Regions from separate parts of the Homo sapiens genome. Here region 1 is linked to region 2. Evidence: fine-mapped expression QTL. A gene starts in region 2. The other region holds a variant in brackets. All regions are shown on one strand. Distances are from middle to middle. Region 1 has its middle 46 kb from the start of AEBP2. Region 2 holds the start of AEBP2 (AE binding protein 2).

The links. PIP is the estimated chance that this variant, and not a neighbour inherited with it, causes the effect.
Region 1: its variant is fine-mapped to the expression of AEBP2 in esophagus mucosa (GTEx, PIP 0.96).

Annotation. Positions count from the first base shown.
Region 1 is chr12:19,388,854-19,397,188 of GRCh38, forward strand. No RefSeq gene overlaps it. Among named protein-coding and RNA genes, the nearest start is that of AEBP2, 46 kb to the right of the region's middle. The variant G/A (reference allele first, on the strand shown) is at 3,383.
Region 2 is chr12:19,434,561-19,442,895 of GRCh38, forward strand. It overlaps AEBP2 (AE binding protein 2), which reads left to right and starts at 4,932. Exons shown (of 8, transcript NM_153207.5): 1 at 4,932-5,810. The coding sequence starts at 5,140. RefSeq lists enhancers at 10-109, 6,020-6,069, 6,100-6,189 and silencers at 4,800-5,049, 5,110-5,259, 5,270-5,369.

The sequences.
Region 1 (8,335 bases), 46 kb before region 2:
GAGCAACCACTTTTAGCCAAAGAGTGTATTTTGTCTGCTAATGAGAAGACTCGTAGCTGAGGCTCCTAGATAGGCTCTGGTTGGGGATTCGTTGTCAGGGGAACTAACTAGATGACTAAAGGGTTGGACCTCTCAGCCCCACCCCTAGACCTATGGGGAAGGGAGAAAACCTGAAGGTTAAGTTGATCAGCAATGGTCAATGATTGAATCAATCTTACCTGTGCCATGAAGCCTCCATAAAAGACACGGTTCTGATGAGCTTCCAGATGATTGAATGTATGGAGGTTCCTGGAGAGTGTGGAAGCTCCACACCCCTTACCCCATACCTCACCCTATGCATCTCTTCATCTGTATCCTTTATTATAAACCATCAGCGTAAGTGTTTCCCTGAGTTCTGTGAGCCCTCCTAGCAAATTAATCAAGCCCAAGAGAGGGTCTGGTTTGTAGCCAGTCAGAAAGTCTGGGGAGGCACGGACTTGTGATTGGCATCTGAAGTGGAGGCAGTTTTAGTGGGGCTGATCCTTCCACCTGTGGGAACGGACACTATCTCCAGGTATGTAGTGTCAGAATTGAATTAGAGGACACCTAGCCGGTATGCGCTGGAGAATCTGCTGGAGGTTTGCTTGGTGGGCTGATGGGGAGAAATCCACACACATTTTGGTGAGCAGGTGTGCTATGTCAAATTGAGTGGTCTCAACACAGTCTCATATTCTCACTGGCCAGAACCAAATGACATGGCCACCCTAGCCATCGGGGTGTCTGGGAAAACAAGTGTTTCTCTTCCCAAACTTTAGAATAGAGAAAGGCAAGGAGAAAAGAGTTGAAATGGGTGTTGAGTGAGCCAAGCTGCAAAAAATATCCCACAAACTAACATCCACCTCACAAACTAAATGTCACCTGCAGCGAACTGGTTAAATAAATCAGAGACTATCCAGTGCATGTTGTTCCTTATTGTATGGTGTGGTTAATCTATGAAAAGCTGTTCACTGTATATGTAGTAAACAGGGCAGTTTATAAAACAATATGTCCTGCAGGATCCCATTTTGTTAAAGAGACATGTATACTATTCATTCACAGAAAAGCCTGGATATACACGATAATGTTCATTCTGGATCTTCTTTAAACACTTCCACATTCTATGATTTATTTTTGGCAAGAAATCACGTCTTTGTTTTAGAATAAGGAGCAGAAAGTAAATTTCCATTTTTAGTTTCCCATTGGGCCAGAAACTGGAGATAAACTAGTCAGTTAAAATCAACCTGATGATGCCTTCTGCCCCCCACGTGACCTCTAAATGTTAGCTGTAAAACTTTGTGAGTTGAGTCAAAGCCAAGTTTAAAGGGAAAACCATAAATAAGCCATTTTGGAAAATATAGCTATTGGCAATCTGTTACATTTCACTTGTATTTCTAAGAGGACACACTCCAGCACATCCCTAGTTGCCTGACTAAAGCTCGCTTGGTAAAACAAAGTGATAATTATTTCAGCAATAGGCTCAGCGCACAATCATGTAGAACCTGTTTTTGAAGGAAGACTGATTGGCATGCCAAAAAGAAAGTCTTGGGTCAGGATGCTAAGTAAAAACTTATTTGTGAAATGGTCTGGAAGAATTTGATAGTGTGAATGTATCATCTCTGAGGAAATCTCAGGAACATCAACATAAAACAAGCTCTCCTTTGAGTTTCCAGTGATTTGGTTCATTTGCTTGTTTTTTGGAATGACTCATAGTTGATTTAAAACATTGTAATAGACAACTTACACAGTTACCTTTTTTTTTTTTTTTTCTGAGACAGAGTCCTGCTCTGTTGCCCAGGCTGGAGTGCAGTGGCGCGATCTCTGCTCACTGCAAGCTCCACCTCCTGGGTTCATGCCATTCTCCTGCCTCAGCCTCCCGAGTAGCTGGGACTACAGGTGCCCGCCACCAGGCCCGGCTAATTTTTTTGTATTTTTAGTAGAGACGGGGTTTCACCATGTTAGCCAGGATGGTCTCGATCTCCTGACCTCGTGATCCACCTGCCTCAGCCTCCCAAAGTGCTGGGATTACAGGCTTGAGCCACCCACCACGCCCGGCCACAGTTACATTTTAAAATCAAACCTAGCCCTAAAAAAATAATACCAGCATAACATAAGTCTATTATCTTGTCTACTATCTTGATCTGAAGAGAACTCTAGGCTTTGGTCCTTAACACCATCTGGGCTAAAATGTTCTGGGAGACTCAAGGAAGGACTGTGATTGCTTTCAGAGAGACAATAACCAGTTCTCGTAAGATTCCTGTGGATGGACCAAAAGTAGACTCAGCACATACATTTTGTGGAAACAACATATAATCCGTGGCACATCTGCCTCCTTTTACAAAAGTAAAAGAAATAAGAATTTAAAGGAAGGAAAGAAAGTGGAATCTGGAAGCAGTAAAAAGGCTATAAGCTTGAGGATTGGAGGCAGAAGGGAGCAAGGATCAGAAGGTGCATCAGGCATCAGGTTCAACTGAAGAGAACAATGAAGGTCACAGCCAGCAATAGAACTCACTGAGAATCTTCATAAATGTCTGATGAAACCACCAAAGAATATATTGTTTAAAATCTATTTTTATTTTCTTTTATTTTACTTTATTTTTGAGACAGAATCATGCTCTGTCGCCCAGGTGGGAGTGCAGTGGTACGATCTCAGCTCACTGCAACCTCTGCCTCCTCGGTTCAAGTGATTCTCACGCCTCAGCCTCCTGAGTAGCTGGGATTACAGGCATGTGCCACCACACCCAGCTAATATTTGTATCTCCTTTTTTTTTTTTTTTTTTTTGGAGAAGGAGTTTCGCTCTTGTTGCCCACGCTGGAGTGCAATGGCGCCATCTCGGCTCACTGCAACCTCCGGCTCCTGCGTTCAAGCTATTCTCCTGCCTCAGCCCCCCGAGTAGCTGGGATAACAGGCATGTACCACCACGCTCGGCTAATTTTGTATTTTTAGTAGAGACAGGGTTTCTCCATGTTGGTCAGGCTGGTCTCAAATTCCTGACATCAGGTGATCCGCCCACCTCAGCCTCCCAAAGTGCTGGGATTACAGGCATGAGCCACCACACCCAGCCGTCTCTCTCTCTTTTATTGTGAACAGGGTCTCACTGTGTCACCCAGGCTGGAGTGCAGTAGCATGATCCTGGCTTACTTCTTACTTCAGCCTCAACCTCCTGGGATCAAGCAATCCTCCCACCTCAGCCTACTGAGTAACTGGGACTATAGGCTCATGCCACTACACCCGGCTAATTTTTAAATTTTTTTATAGAGACAAGGTCTCACTATGTTGCCCAGGCTGCTCTCAAACTCCTAAACTCAAGCAATCTTCCAGCTCCAGCTGGAAAAATATGTATATGTTTTGCTCTTTGTTGCCCAG[G/A]CTGGAGTGCAATGGTGTGATCTCAGCTCACAGCAATGTCTGCCTCCCGGGTTCAAACAATTCTCCTGCCTCAGCCTCCCAAGTAGCTGGAATTACAGGAGCCTGCCTCCACACCTGGCTAATTTTTTTTATTTTTAGTAGAGATGGGGGTTTCACTGTGTTAGCCAGGATGGTCTCGATCCCCTGACCTCATGATCCGCCCACCTCGGCCTCTGAAAGTGCTGGGATTACAGGAGTGAGCCACTGTGCCTGGACTGTTTTGTTTTTGTTTTTGTTTTTGTTTTTTTTTGAGACAGAGTTTTGCTCTTGTTGCCCAGAGTGGAGTGCAATGGCACGATCTTAGCTCACCGCAACCTCTGCCTCCTGGGTTCAAGCGATTCTCCTGCCTTAGTCTCCCGAGTAGCTGGGATTACAGACATGTGCCACCACACCCGGCTAATTTTGTATTTTTAGTAAAGACGGGGTTTCTCCATGTTGGTCAGGCTGGTCTCGAACTCCTGACCTCAGGTGATCCACCTGCCTCGGCCTCCAACAGTGCTGGGATTACAGACTTAAGCCACCACGCCCGGCCCTGAGGTATTTTAAGTAGGAGATTGACAGGACCAGATTTGCCTTTTGAATAGATAACTGTGTCACTTTTGTATATTCATACAATGAAAAGGTTATGCTGCACTGAAAATAGACTTGGATGACACGTCTCAGCATGAAAATTTCACACAGATGTAAGATTAGTGGGCTAGGGGTAGCGACCAAGTGACAGAAGGATACATACAATGTAATTTTATCTATATAAGCATAAAATATTCATGAAAATATACACACACATATATGGACACATAAATATTGTAAAAATATAAAGACCTGTGGAAAAGGATAAATGGCAAAATCAGGTTATAGTTATCTCTGGAATGCTAGGCCGGGCAAGGTTGCCCATGCCTGTAATCCCAGCACTTTGGGAGGCTGAGGCAGTGACAGAGCGAGACTCCATCAAAAGGAAGGAAGGAAGGAAGGAGGGAGGGAGGGAGGGAGGGAGGAAAGGGGAAGGGGAAGGGGAAGGGGGAAGGGGGAAGAAAGGAAGCATTATGCTAAGTGAAGAACGAATTTACAAAAGGCCACATATTGTATGATTCCATTGATATGAAATATCCATCATAGGCAAATTCATAAAGACAGAAAGCTGATTAGTAGTTGCCAGGTGCTTAGAAAGAGGGAAATGAGAAGTGACTACTTGATGGGTATGGGGTTTCCATTTGGGATGAAGAAAAGGTTTTGTTAACGAGGTCATGATGTCTGCACACTATGAATGAATGTCTGCACATCATGAATACCTGTACTTAATGCCACCGAATTGTACACTTTCAAATTGTTAAAATGGTAAATTTTATGTTATGTGCCTTTTACCACAATTTAAAGGGAAAGAAAATGAGGAGGCTCAGGTTTGTGCACTTAACCATACCACTCATCTAACTTTATGTACTTGCTCATGCTTCACAGAATGTAGAGATCCAGGCTGGGTGTGATGGCTCACGCCTGTAATCCCAGCATTTTGGGAGGCTGAGGTGGATGGATCATCTTAGGTTGGGAGTTTGAGACCAGCCTGGCCAACATGGTGAAACCCGGTCTCTACTAAAAATACAAAAATTAGATGGGCGTGGTGGCGGGCGCATGTAATCCCAGCTACTAGGGAGACTGAGCCACGAGAATCACTTGAACCTGGGAGGTGGAGGTGACAGTGAGCTGAGGTCATGCCACTGCACTGCAGCCTGGGTGACAGAGTGAGACTACATCTCAAAAAAAATAAATAAATAAAAAATAAAATTAGAGACTGTGTCTCAAAAATAAATAAATAAAATTTAAAAATAGGCCAGGGGCAGTGGCTCACACCTGTAATCCCAGCACTTTGGGAGGCCGAGGCGGGTGGATCACGAGGTCAGGAGATCGAGACCATCCTGGCTAACACAGTGAAACCCTGTCTCTACTAAAAAAATATAAAAAATTAGCCGGGCGTGGTGGCCGACACCTGTAGTCCCAGCTACTTGGGAGGCTGAGGCAGGAGAATGGCGTGAACCCGGGAGGTGGAGCTTGCAGAGAGCCAAGATCACTGCCACTGCACTCCAGCCTGGGCAACAGAGCGAGACTCCGTCTCAAAAAAAAAAAAAAGAATGTGGAGATCCAAGTTGATCAAAAAGACATGGTGTTCCCTCTGCTTGAGACAATCTCCTTTCAGGCACACATGAACTCACACCCACACACCCTTTCCTTTGTTCTAGGAAATCCTACCTACCTTTCAGCTAAGACCTCACTACTTCCAGAAATATTTTCCTGACTGCCTTATGCCTCTTGGGACAAAACATCCCTCTATTGTGTACTTCACAGCTTTAGCTTCTTCCCTATTGTAGCATTAATAGACTTGTGAGTCCCCCACTGTATCCCCACGGTATCTCCCGACTTAGCAGAGTGTTATGCACATAGTAAATCTTTGCTGAGTGAAAACATATGTTATAAATATCTTGTTTTTTAATAAAAAAGATTATTATCTCTCTGTCTCCCAAAATTACAAGGATCTGGAATCTCACAGACAGGAGGAGAGAATAGGGCGGGACACTATGGCTCATGCCTGTAATCCCATCACTTTGGGAGGCTGAGATGGGAGGATCACTTAAGCCCAGGAGATGAAGGCTGCGGTGAGCAAGCATTGGGCCACTGCAATTCAGCCTGGGCAACAGAGTGATGAGAACTTGTCCAAAAAAAAAAAAAAAAAAAAAAAAGGTTAACCAAGTTCTGAGCTGTTAACATGACAGTAATAACAGACTTTTTTTGTTTTTATTTTTGTTTTTTTGAGACAGAATCTCACTCTGTCATCCAGGCTGGAGTGCAGTGGCGCCATCTTGGCTCACTGCAACCTCCGCCTCCCGGGTTCACGCCATTCTCCTGCCTCAGCCTCCCGACTAGTTGAGACTACAGGCGCCCACCACCACGCCCGGCTAATTTTTGTATTTTTAGTAGAGACGAAGTTTCACCATATTGGCCAGGCTGGTCTCAAACTCCTGACCTTGTGATCTGCCTGCCTTGGCGTTCCAAAGTGCTAGGATTACAGGCATGAGCCACTGCATCCGGCCTGGACTTATGTTTTAAATGGTGCTAATCTAGATTAATTAATTAGAAAAACCTCCTTTGAGCACCCACCATGTTTCTAGTATTGTGTTCCATGTGGTTTAAGTTGCATAAGACACAGTTACAACCCAGAAGGATCCTGTACTACCACTGCTCAAGCAATGGGGTCACCCACAACTTCATCACTTTTCTCTCCTCCCTGCTCCAGTTGTGCAGCAATGATCCCTCCACTTCTATTCTTTCTCTCTTCCTACCAGGGACCAGTTCTTCAGCGAGGTGCTGGGGATAACAGCATGAGCCAGACTAGAGACCCTGCTTACGGTTTACTTACCCATCATCCTCAGATATCCTAGATGAGTTTTCTCATCTGTATAAAAAGGAAATAGGGACTGGGCGCGGTGGCTTATGCCTGTAATCCCAGCACTTTGGGAGGCCGAAGTGGATGGATCACTTGAGGCCAGGAGTTCAAGGCCAGCCTGGCCAACACAATGAAACCCTGTCTTTACCAAAAAATGCAAAAATTAGCTGGGCATGGTGGCATGTGCCTGTAATCCCAGCTACTCGGGAGGCTGAGGCAGGAGAATTGCTTGAACCCAGGAGGGGGAGGTTGCAGTGAGCCAAGATCACACCACTGCACTCCAGCCTGTGCAACAGAGTGAGACCCTGTTTAAACAAACAAACAAACAAACAAACAAAAAGAGGAAATAGAGTTACCTGATCCTGAACCTGGCCCTAAGGTATGCTTTCAAAATAGGTTATTTCCCTTTCCCTCCTCTCATTTGACCAAGAGCTATGAAAGAAGTGTTGTGTGCTCAGAAAGTCCAGCTCCAAGTTCAACCAGCCAAGCATGGTGACTCACGCCTCTAATCCCAATATTTTGGGAGATCAAGGTGGAAGGATCACTTGAGGCCAGGAGCTCAGGAGGTCAAGATCAGATTGGGCAACACGGCAAGTCCCCGTCTCTTAAAAAGAAAAAAAAAATTAAAAAAGAAATTGGCCGGACGCGGTGGCTCATGCCTGTAATCCCAGCACTTTCGGGGGCAGAGGTGGGCAGATCATGAGGTCAAGAGATCAAGACCATCCTGGCCAATATGGTGAAAACCCGTCTCTACTAAAAGTACAAAAAAATTAGCTGAGCATGGTGGCATGTGCCTGTAGTCCCAGCTACTCTGGAGGCTGAGGCAGGAGAATCGCTTGAACCTGAGAGGGGGAGGTTGCAGTCAGCCGAGATTGCGCCACTTCACTCCAGCCTGGGTGACAGAGCGAGACCCCGTCTCAAAAAAAAAAAAAAAAAAGAGGGAAATTAGTCACTTAGGAAAATAATACCTTTTCTTTTTCTAAATAAAATACAAACAGAGTCTTGCTGTGTTGCCGACAATTGTCTTGAACTCCTGCTCTTAAGTAATCCTACTCCTTTGACCTCCCATGGTGCTGAGAACAGGCGTGAGCCACTGCACCCAGGCTGCCTTTCTAAAATAGAAAGATGGCTTTCAAGGCTGGACGCAGTGGCTCAAGCCTGGGAGGCCAAGGTGGGTGGATCATTTGAGGTCAGGAGTTCGTGACCAGCCTGGCCAACATGGTGAAACCCCATCTCTACTAAAAATACAAAAATTGTCGGGCGTGGTGGCTCACACCTGCAGTCCCGGCACTTTGGGAGGCCGAGGCGGGCAGATTACCTGAGGTCGGGAGTTTGAGACCAGCCTGACCAACATGGAGAAACCCCGTCTCTACTAAAAATACAAAATTAGCCATGTGTGGTGGCGCATGCGTGTAATCCCAGCTACTCAGGAGGCTGAGGCAGGACAATCACTTGAACCCGGGAGGTGGAGGTTGCAGTGA
Region 2 (8,335 bases):
CCTATGTAGCTACAAACCGGGAATGCACAGTTTATGAATGGGTACTGAGCTGGGGAATGACTTTGGTCCTCAGGATCATCAAACCTGTCACCTGATGCTGCCAAAAGAAACTGTCACACAGAGGTTCTGCTCTAGTTCAACACTTCAGTTATTTAAATTTTGAGAGTGAAATAATGACATCCTGTCACTGTGGTTATGGAGGAGTGTGGCCTTGTTCTAAGGAGATGCATGCAGAGCAGTGATGTCTGCAACTAAACCAAGAGGAAGACAGGGAAACTCTCCAGTGATGGGAAACACAATTTTCTGCAAAATGCCAATTCCGAGACAGTTCATTTTAGTCTTCAAGTATAAATACCACAGCTAAAATATTCGTTTGTGGCTTTGATACTTGCCATTTCCATGTGTCTAATCTCCATTCACTTTTGACACTTTTTTTTTCCCTTAATAAATCCTTCACTGGAACTTTTCACACTTTTCATCCTATCTCCTATATATTAGATTCTACAGATGTACAATATAATCTAATCATATCATACCTTTATTAAAATATCTTAGTACATACCTGTCAGAACTTTTTTTTTTTTTTTGAGACAAAGTCTCACTCTGTCACCCAGGCTGAAGTGCAGTGGTGCTTGGCTTACTGAAAGCCTGGACCTCCCTAGGCTCAGGTGATCCTCCCACCTCAGCCTCCCATAGCTGTGTGCCACCATGACTGGCTAATTTTTTTTTTTTTTTCTTGAGACGGTGTCATGCTCCGTCACCCAGGCTGGAGTGCAGTGGCGCAATTTCGGCTCACTGCAACCTCCACCTCCCGGGTTCAAGTGATTCTCCTGTGCCTGGCTAATTTTTTTATTTTTTGTAGAGATAGGGTTTCACCTTGTTGGCCAGGCTGGCCTTGAACTCGTAACCTCAAGTGATTTGTCTGTCTCAGCTCTCCACAGTGCTGGATTACAGGCATGAGCCACTGTGACTGGTCCCCAACATCAACTTTTTATTCATGTCCTTCTTCAATCTAATATTTAACTATTTTTAGCTTTCTTGCCATGATTTCTTATGGTTAATTAACCTTGTCATGAATAAATGTTGATGCTTTTCCGTATATTGCTTCTCAGTTTGAGTTCCCCAACACAGAATTCTGTTCGCTCTTCAAAATCCAGCTCAAATTAATGAAACCAGATATAGTTATTGTATGTCTTACTATACACTTTGTCGAAATCCTACATTTTTCATGAAGCTTTCCTTGATTAACTCGGCCAAACATGAACCATAATCTCCAGGGCTTAACACAGTGTCTGGCACATACATTTGTTGGGGCTCAGAAAATGATACCCCAAAGTATGGTGCTTTGGCATGCTGAGTACTTTTGTCAGAGGTGTTCGAACCACAGCGACTCGCATCGTGAATACGGGATGGGTAAAATAAGGCTGAAACCTACTGGGCTGCATTCCCAGGAGGTTAGGCATTCTAAGTTAGGATAAGATAGCAGGTCAGCACAAGATACAGGTCACAAACTCCTTGCTGGTAAAAGGATGTGGTAAAGAAGCTGACCAAAACACACAAAAACCAAGATGCGATGTAAGTGACCTCTGGTCATCGTAGCTACTCATTATGTGCTAATTATAATACATTAGCATGCTAAGAGACAACTCCCACCAGTGCCTTGACAGTTTACAAATGCCATGCCAATGTCGGGAAGTTACCCTATCGTCTAAAAAATGGAGAAACCCTCATTTCCAGGAACTGCCCACCCTTTTCCTGGAAAACTCATGAATAATCTACCCCTTGTTTAGCGTATAATCAGGAGATGACCATAAAAGTGGCCAGCCAGAAGCCCTCAGTGCTGCTCTGTCTATGGAGTAGCCATTCTTTTATTCCTTTACTTTCTTAATAAACTTGCTTTCACTTTACTGTATGGACTTACCCCAAATTCTTTCTTGTGTGAGGTCCAAGAACCCTCTCCTGGGGTCGGGATCGGGGCCCCTTTCTGGTAACACTTTGTGTTTTCTTTTGTTTTCTTTTCTTTTTTCTTTTTTTTTTGGGGGGGGGATAAGGTCTTACTCTATTGCCCAAACTGGAGTGCAATGGCTCTTGATCACTCACAGTTCACTGCAGCCTCAATCTCCTGGCTCAAGCTGTCCTCCCACCTCAGCCTCCCAAGTAGCTGGGACTACAGGTGCACACCACCACACCTGGCTAGTTAACAACAAAAAAAAGTGTTTTGTAGCGATGGAGTTTCATCCCATTGCTCAGGCTGGTCTCGAACTCCTGGGCTCAAGTGATCCCCCTGCTTCAGTTTCCCAAAGTGCTGGGATTACAAGAGTGAGCCACTGCACCTGGCCCCCATGCTGAGTACTTTGAACTAAAGGAGATTGGAAAGCCTGAGAAGCAAAGTCTCTCACTGAACCTCTGTCCTGCTGTCTCCTATCCCTGTTACTCACCCTAGGCTAGTCATATAAACCAGAACTCCTTTCCCCACAAAGTAAGCCATGAAACGAAGAAAGGTCACTCTCTGCCTTCTCATTTGAAGACTCTCATTCCAGAGAAGTCTGCTCTATACCTGGGTGTGGAAGGAATGCTACACAGAGAGGTCAAGACGAATCTGGACAGGCCTTGCTGGGTTTCCACACTCAGTCTATTACTATTAGTTCATTCTCTTTTTGTACAATCACATTTCTACATGGATGTCCACTCTGTTGAATCTAGGCATACAAATGGACAGCTTTCTCTGGGTCTTTACTTCTGAAGGCTCCTGTGTCACATAAGACTTCCATTAAATTAATTTGTTACACTTTTCTCTTGTTAACCTGTCTTTTGTTGTAGAAGTGTTGGCCATGACCCTTATGATGGGTGAGGAAAGGTATGGAGTGCAGTGGCATGATCATGGCTCACTGCAGCCTCAACCTCCAGGGCTCAAGTGAACCTCCCACTTCAGCCTCCTGAGTAGCTGGGACTACAGGTGTGCCGTAGAGACAGGGTCTCGCTATTTTACCCAGGCTGGTCTCAAACTCCTGGGCTCAAGTGAGCCTCCTACTTTGGCCTCCCAAAGTGCTGGGATTACAGGTATAAGCCACCCTGCCGGCCTTCTGATAGTTTTTAATTTACAGTTTACAGTGTATTTCACTTTAATACATTCCTTATCTAAGATTGCCTTTGAGGTTTAAAATGTTGGAAGTTAATACCTTACATTGTATGTGCCTCTGAAGGTATCTGTAAATGATGTCCCATGTTATTATTTTTGCATTCCCTTAGAGGCAACATTTTATATAACAGTTGTCCAAAGGCCTAAGGCAGAGGATGTAATACTGGGTACTCACGGTATATGACGACTTTCCCAAATGGGAAATGAGCATGGAGGCTCTGTTTTCAGGCAGTCAGTTCTATCCTCATTTTCCTTGAGTAGAAGCATCCCTAAAATTGGCCTGAAAATGTGTCCTTGGGTCAGGGTGTAATGTGGGCTCTTTTCCAGTCTCCTTTCTTCCAATGACCTCTTCCCTACTTTACAAAAGAAAGGCATAATTCTTCCTCATGCTAAATCTTAGTAAGGTGCAATACCCGGTTATGCAAAAACCTCCAGGACACCAAAGAAAGGCACAATTGACTGGTGAATAAGAATGGGGTAACACATCCTTTCACAAGTCAGGTGGTTTTCAGTTGCTTGCTTTCAACAAGTTGAAAGAGAACCTAATCAGAGTTGTCAGCTGACAGATCATTAAAAGTATTTTTTCTTTGTTAGATCTTTATGCGATTTTTGGGCATATAATGCGAAAGGCATTCAAAGAATTGTGTGGCATTACTATAACAAAACTCCATTCATTCTCATCTGCTTTTTTTATGCGAACAAGTTTTCTCAACACTTATATCCATGGAATTGAAAACTTGGAATAGAACTGATGCTGAACTATTTCTCAAAAAAATCCATCCACTGAAGGTCATAATGTATATTAGAAAAAAGTCCACCCAAGTTCATTTCTGCAAGATGCATTGCCAATAAAATTTTGCTTTTGTGTTTAGTACTTACAAACATTTGAAATAGATTTGTTTTGATCGGTTGAAATAAGAGCTTTATGATCACAGAAAATATAAAAAACAACCCAGATACTTCAATTTATGTTCACATTTTTATTACAAGTAAGACGATCAAAATAGTTCAAATATAAAATATATTACTAGGATAAAATTCTAGAGGAGATATGCAACGTCAATATGAGTTCCAGAAAACAATATTTGGAAATTGTATTTTCCAAACTGTATTTTAAAAAAATGGATATTAGTGGGTGTTAAATCCCTATGGTATTTAGAATCCATTGGCTATACAGTATTTAAACAATGCGACAGATGAAATATTTATAAGCCGGAAAAATGTAGCTGTCATTCTAAACTGTATAAGAACATACACAGCTTTACGAAATTGTTTTAGAAGGCTCATGAAGTAAAAAGTTTGAGGACCCTGAACCAAGATGTTTGCTCTGGGTTCAGGATGTCAACATCTCCAGGGGTATTCAAACATAGGGTGTATTAAAACCTGTCGCCCTGTGTTGCGCATAAAAATTTAGTACCTTACACCGTAGTGTTTTAATTTTTGCCCATTTTAAACCGCTCTCTTCGTAGACTGTAGGCTCGTTCTATTCCTGGCTCAGCTCCTGTACAGAGGGGACACTCCTCAAACACCCCCGGAATGAATGAGTTTATCGTGAGAACTCGGAAGGCTGCTAAAATCCCCGGCCAGCGTTGGAGTTTTCAGTCCGCGTGTCCCTGGGCTTCGAAGCCCGGCAGGGCGTGGGAAGGCCCCGAGGAAACGCTGAGCACTTGCAGGCGCCGGGGCGGGGGCGGGGGCGGGCACTGGGCAGCGGGGCGGGCGCCGGGCGGGGGCGGGGGCGCAGAACCCGCAGCCGGGGGAGGTGCTGCCTCGTGCCGCCGCGCAGGCGCGCAGCAGTCTCCGTGTGAGTGCGCGTAGTCGCGCGCCTGTCCCCGCGCGGGCTCCGTAGCGCGTGTGCAGGCTGACGCAGCTCGCGGGCCCTCCTCCTGCTCTGCAGCGGCGTCGGCGGAGTTTTGGGCGTTTGGGAGGGGGGCGAGGGAGAGAGAGTCGAGAGAGGGAGGCGGCGGTGGGGAGGAGGAGGAGGAGGAGGAGCAGGCGCCGCCATGGCCGCCGCTATCACCGACATGGCCGACCTGGAGGAGCTCTCCCGCCTGAGCCCTCTGCCCCCCGGCAGCCCGGGTTCGGCGGCGCGGGGCCGGGCTGAGCCCCCCGAGGAGGAGGAGGAAGAGGAGGAGGAGGAAGAGGAGGCGGAGGCCGAGGCGGTGGCGGCGCTGCTGCTGAACGGCGGCAGCGGTGGGGGCGGCGGAGGCGGCGGCGGAGGAGTGGGGGGCGGCGAGGCAGAGACGATGTCGGAGCCGAGCCCCGAGAGCGCCAGCCAGGCCGGGGAGGACGAAGACGAGGAGGAGGACGACGAGGAGGAGGAAGATGAGAGCAGCAGCAGCGGCGGGGGTGAGGAGGAGAGTAGCGCCGAGAGCCTGGTGGGCAGCAGCGGCGGGAGCAGCAGCGACGAGACCCGCTCGTTGAGCCCCGGCGCCGCCAGCAGCAGCAGCGGGGATGGGGACGGCAAGGAGGGCCTGGAGGAGCCCAAGGGACCGCGGGGCAGCCAGGGCGGCGGCGGGGGCGGCAGCAGTAGCAGCAGCGTAGTCTCCAGCGGCGGCGACGAGGGCTACGGGACTGGGGGAGGCGGAAGCAGCGCGACCTCCGGGGGCCGGCGGGGCAGCTTGGAGATGTCGTCGGATGGGGAACCCCTGAGCCGCATGGACTCGGAGGACAGGTCAGTGCTCTGAAGCGTTTCCCCTTCCCTTCCTCCTCTTGAACTCCCGGGCCCCTCAGAGGGGGACCAAGGCGACGTTTTGCCGCGATCCCCCTGCTCCCCGAATCCTCGGCCCCTCCCCCAGACTCTCAACTCGGAAATCTCTCGCCGTCGCCGCCGCGCCCCTCTCGCAGCGCATCGCGGCTTCCAACTCTCAAACCGTTCCCCCCCAACTCTCCTTTCCCCGCCCTCTTTCCCCTCGGCGCTTCGCTCCTCACGGACCTCAGGACGGCTCTAACTCGGAAACAGTCCCCAAACGGGCCCAGATCCTCTGGCGGAGCAGAAGAGGGCCTTGATGTACACACGTCGGTACTCAAGGTTAGCTTCTTCCAACCGTGTTCGGGAACACTTGTCAGAACTACAATTGACAAGTGTTTCCAATATGGCTGGTCTCGCCTGGATTTAACAGAACTTCCTTGTCCATGGGAGAGACCCCAGCTATCACTTTTCTCTACTTAAACAAAAAAAGGACTGTTCTTTTATATTAAATCATTGCCTCCCAAATCCCTCATTTGTAGTCAGTCATGTGGTCTCCAACGTGATTTTAACAATCTTTTCTATTTGTTTTGGGAGCATATCTGGGAAAAAGTTTTAAACACGTATAAATGGTTGTGGAAAAGAATAGTGAATTGATGGCCTTTTAAGATAACTTTGCGGAATCAGAGAGTTGGAATCGTAACAAAATACAGTCTTGAAGGTACAACGTAGTTTGCGGCTTTATAGTAATGTTTCAACATGAGAGTCATGATTTTAAATGATAATATTTAAAGTCATGCATTGGAGAGGTCTCGGAAGGAATGAGTATTATTTTTCTTACTAAAGCTTGTTAGAAGTAACTGGAGAGTGACAAAAATGCGCATTTTTTCAGAACATTTAAAAAGTGTGATAGTGTATGTTTCAATTGTCTTATCATTACTTTTGATCTGTTTGGGTTAGTTGGTTTTTAATGTACTTTTAAAAAAACGAGAATCACATGCATATTATGCCACTTCTAAAGTGTATTAGCGTTTATTTTGACCATCTATGTTTTGACAATCACATTTTTTTTAAACATGCTCTCCAGAAAAGTATAGCAATGGAAATTTTAGTGGTCGATAGTGATTTTCATTTAAGAGTTTAATATTCTAAAGTTCTAGGAATTCTGATTAATTGATTAAAAACGAACACCTTAGTATTTAATGCTACAAGTAATACAGAGTCCTGGATATTTTGAAAATCTGGCATTAGATTCTGTTTGACATTAACGTCTAGTTAAGAAAATATCTTCGGGTAAAGTAGACTGTATAAACCTTAGAAAAATTGTGTTGAACTGTGTAGGCATGGGTAGGAAGGAGAATGTCTTCAAGAAAATTAAAAATTGATGTAAACTGCACAATGAAGCATGTGCTATTTTTACCATTTTATGCTCCTCTGATACCATTACATATCTGAAAGTTGACATTAGTTTATAAAATCAGCGTTTTTCATTTACTCAGTATACACGTATTATGCTTGCCTACCACTGTACAAATTAGATGTCTTCCATTTCATTCCCACAACTATGGTGCAAGATAGGTATTATTTTGACTTCTGTTTAACAGATGAAGAAGCAAGTTGAGTATCTTACTCAGGACAGTAAATACAGCATGGAAATGGTGGGCTGGATATGAGCAAAGGTTCTCAAGTCCCCTATTATTTCCACTGAAGAGTTAAAATAATTCGCCTTAAATAAGTTGAGGCCGGGCGCGGTGGCTCAGGCCTGTTAACCCCAGGACTTTGGGAGGCCGAGGTGGGCGGATCACCTGAGTTGGGAGTTTGAGATCAGCCTGGCCAACATAGTGAAACCTTATCTACATTAAAAATACAAAAATTACCCGAGAGTGGTGGCGCGCGCCTGTGTTCCCAGCTACTCGGGAGGCTGAGGCAGGAGAATCGCTTGAACCCGGGAGGCAGAGGTTGCAGTGAGCTGAGATGGTGCCACTGCACTCCAGCCTGGGCGACAGAGCGAGACTCCGTCTCAAAAAAAAACCAAGTGATATGTGTCAGAGTTTTGTTTTTAGTTAGTGTCCATTTACTACATCACTTCAGGAGACGAATTATTGGTTAAGTACATTTAGGAAGTGGAGTTGTGGCTTTTATTTGACATTAATGAGATATTTACTTGAGTATATAATTTTTACATCTTATTTCAGAATAAGAAGTAAAATACGGGTGTCACAAATCCAACTACAGTTAAAACTTGATAACCAAGCAAACTTGGTTTTCTTAATGCTTAATTTTAGAGACTACAGAATACTGTTTTTAATGTCACCATTTCAGGGTAATAGATTTGTCACTTGTATGAAGAAGGCTTACTAGTGAAACTGGCTTGGGGTCTTAATAATCTTAATTCTGAAACATCTTCTTGTTGCCTTTGAGATTTTTCTCCCAGTTATTTTGAGTTTGGAAAGGATCCCTAATTCTTATAAATTACTGTAGATTACATCAATCTGTGGATTTTATAGGTT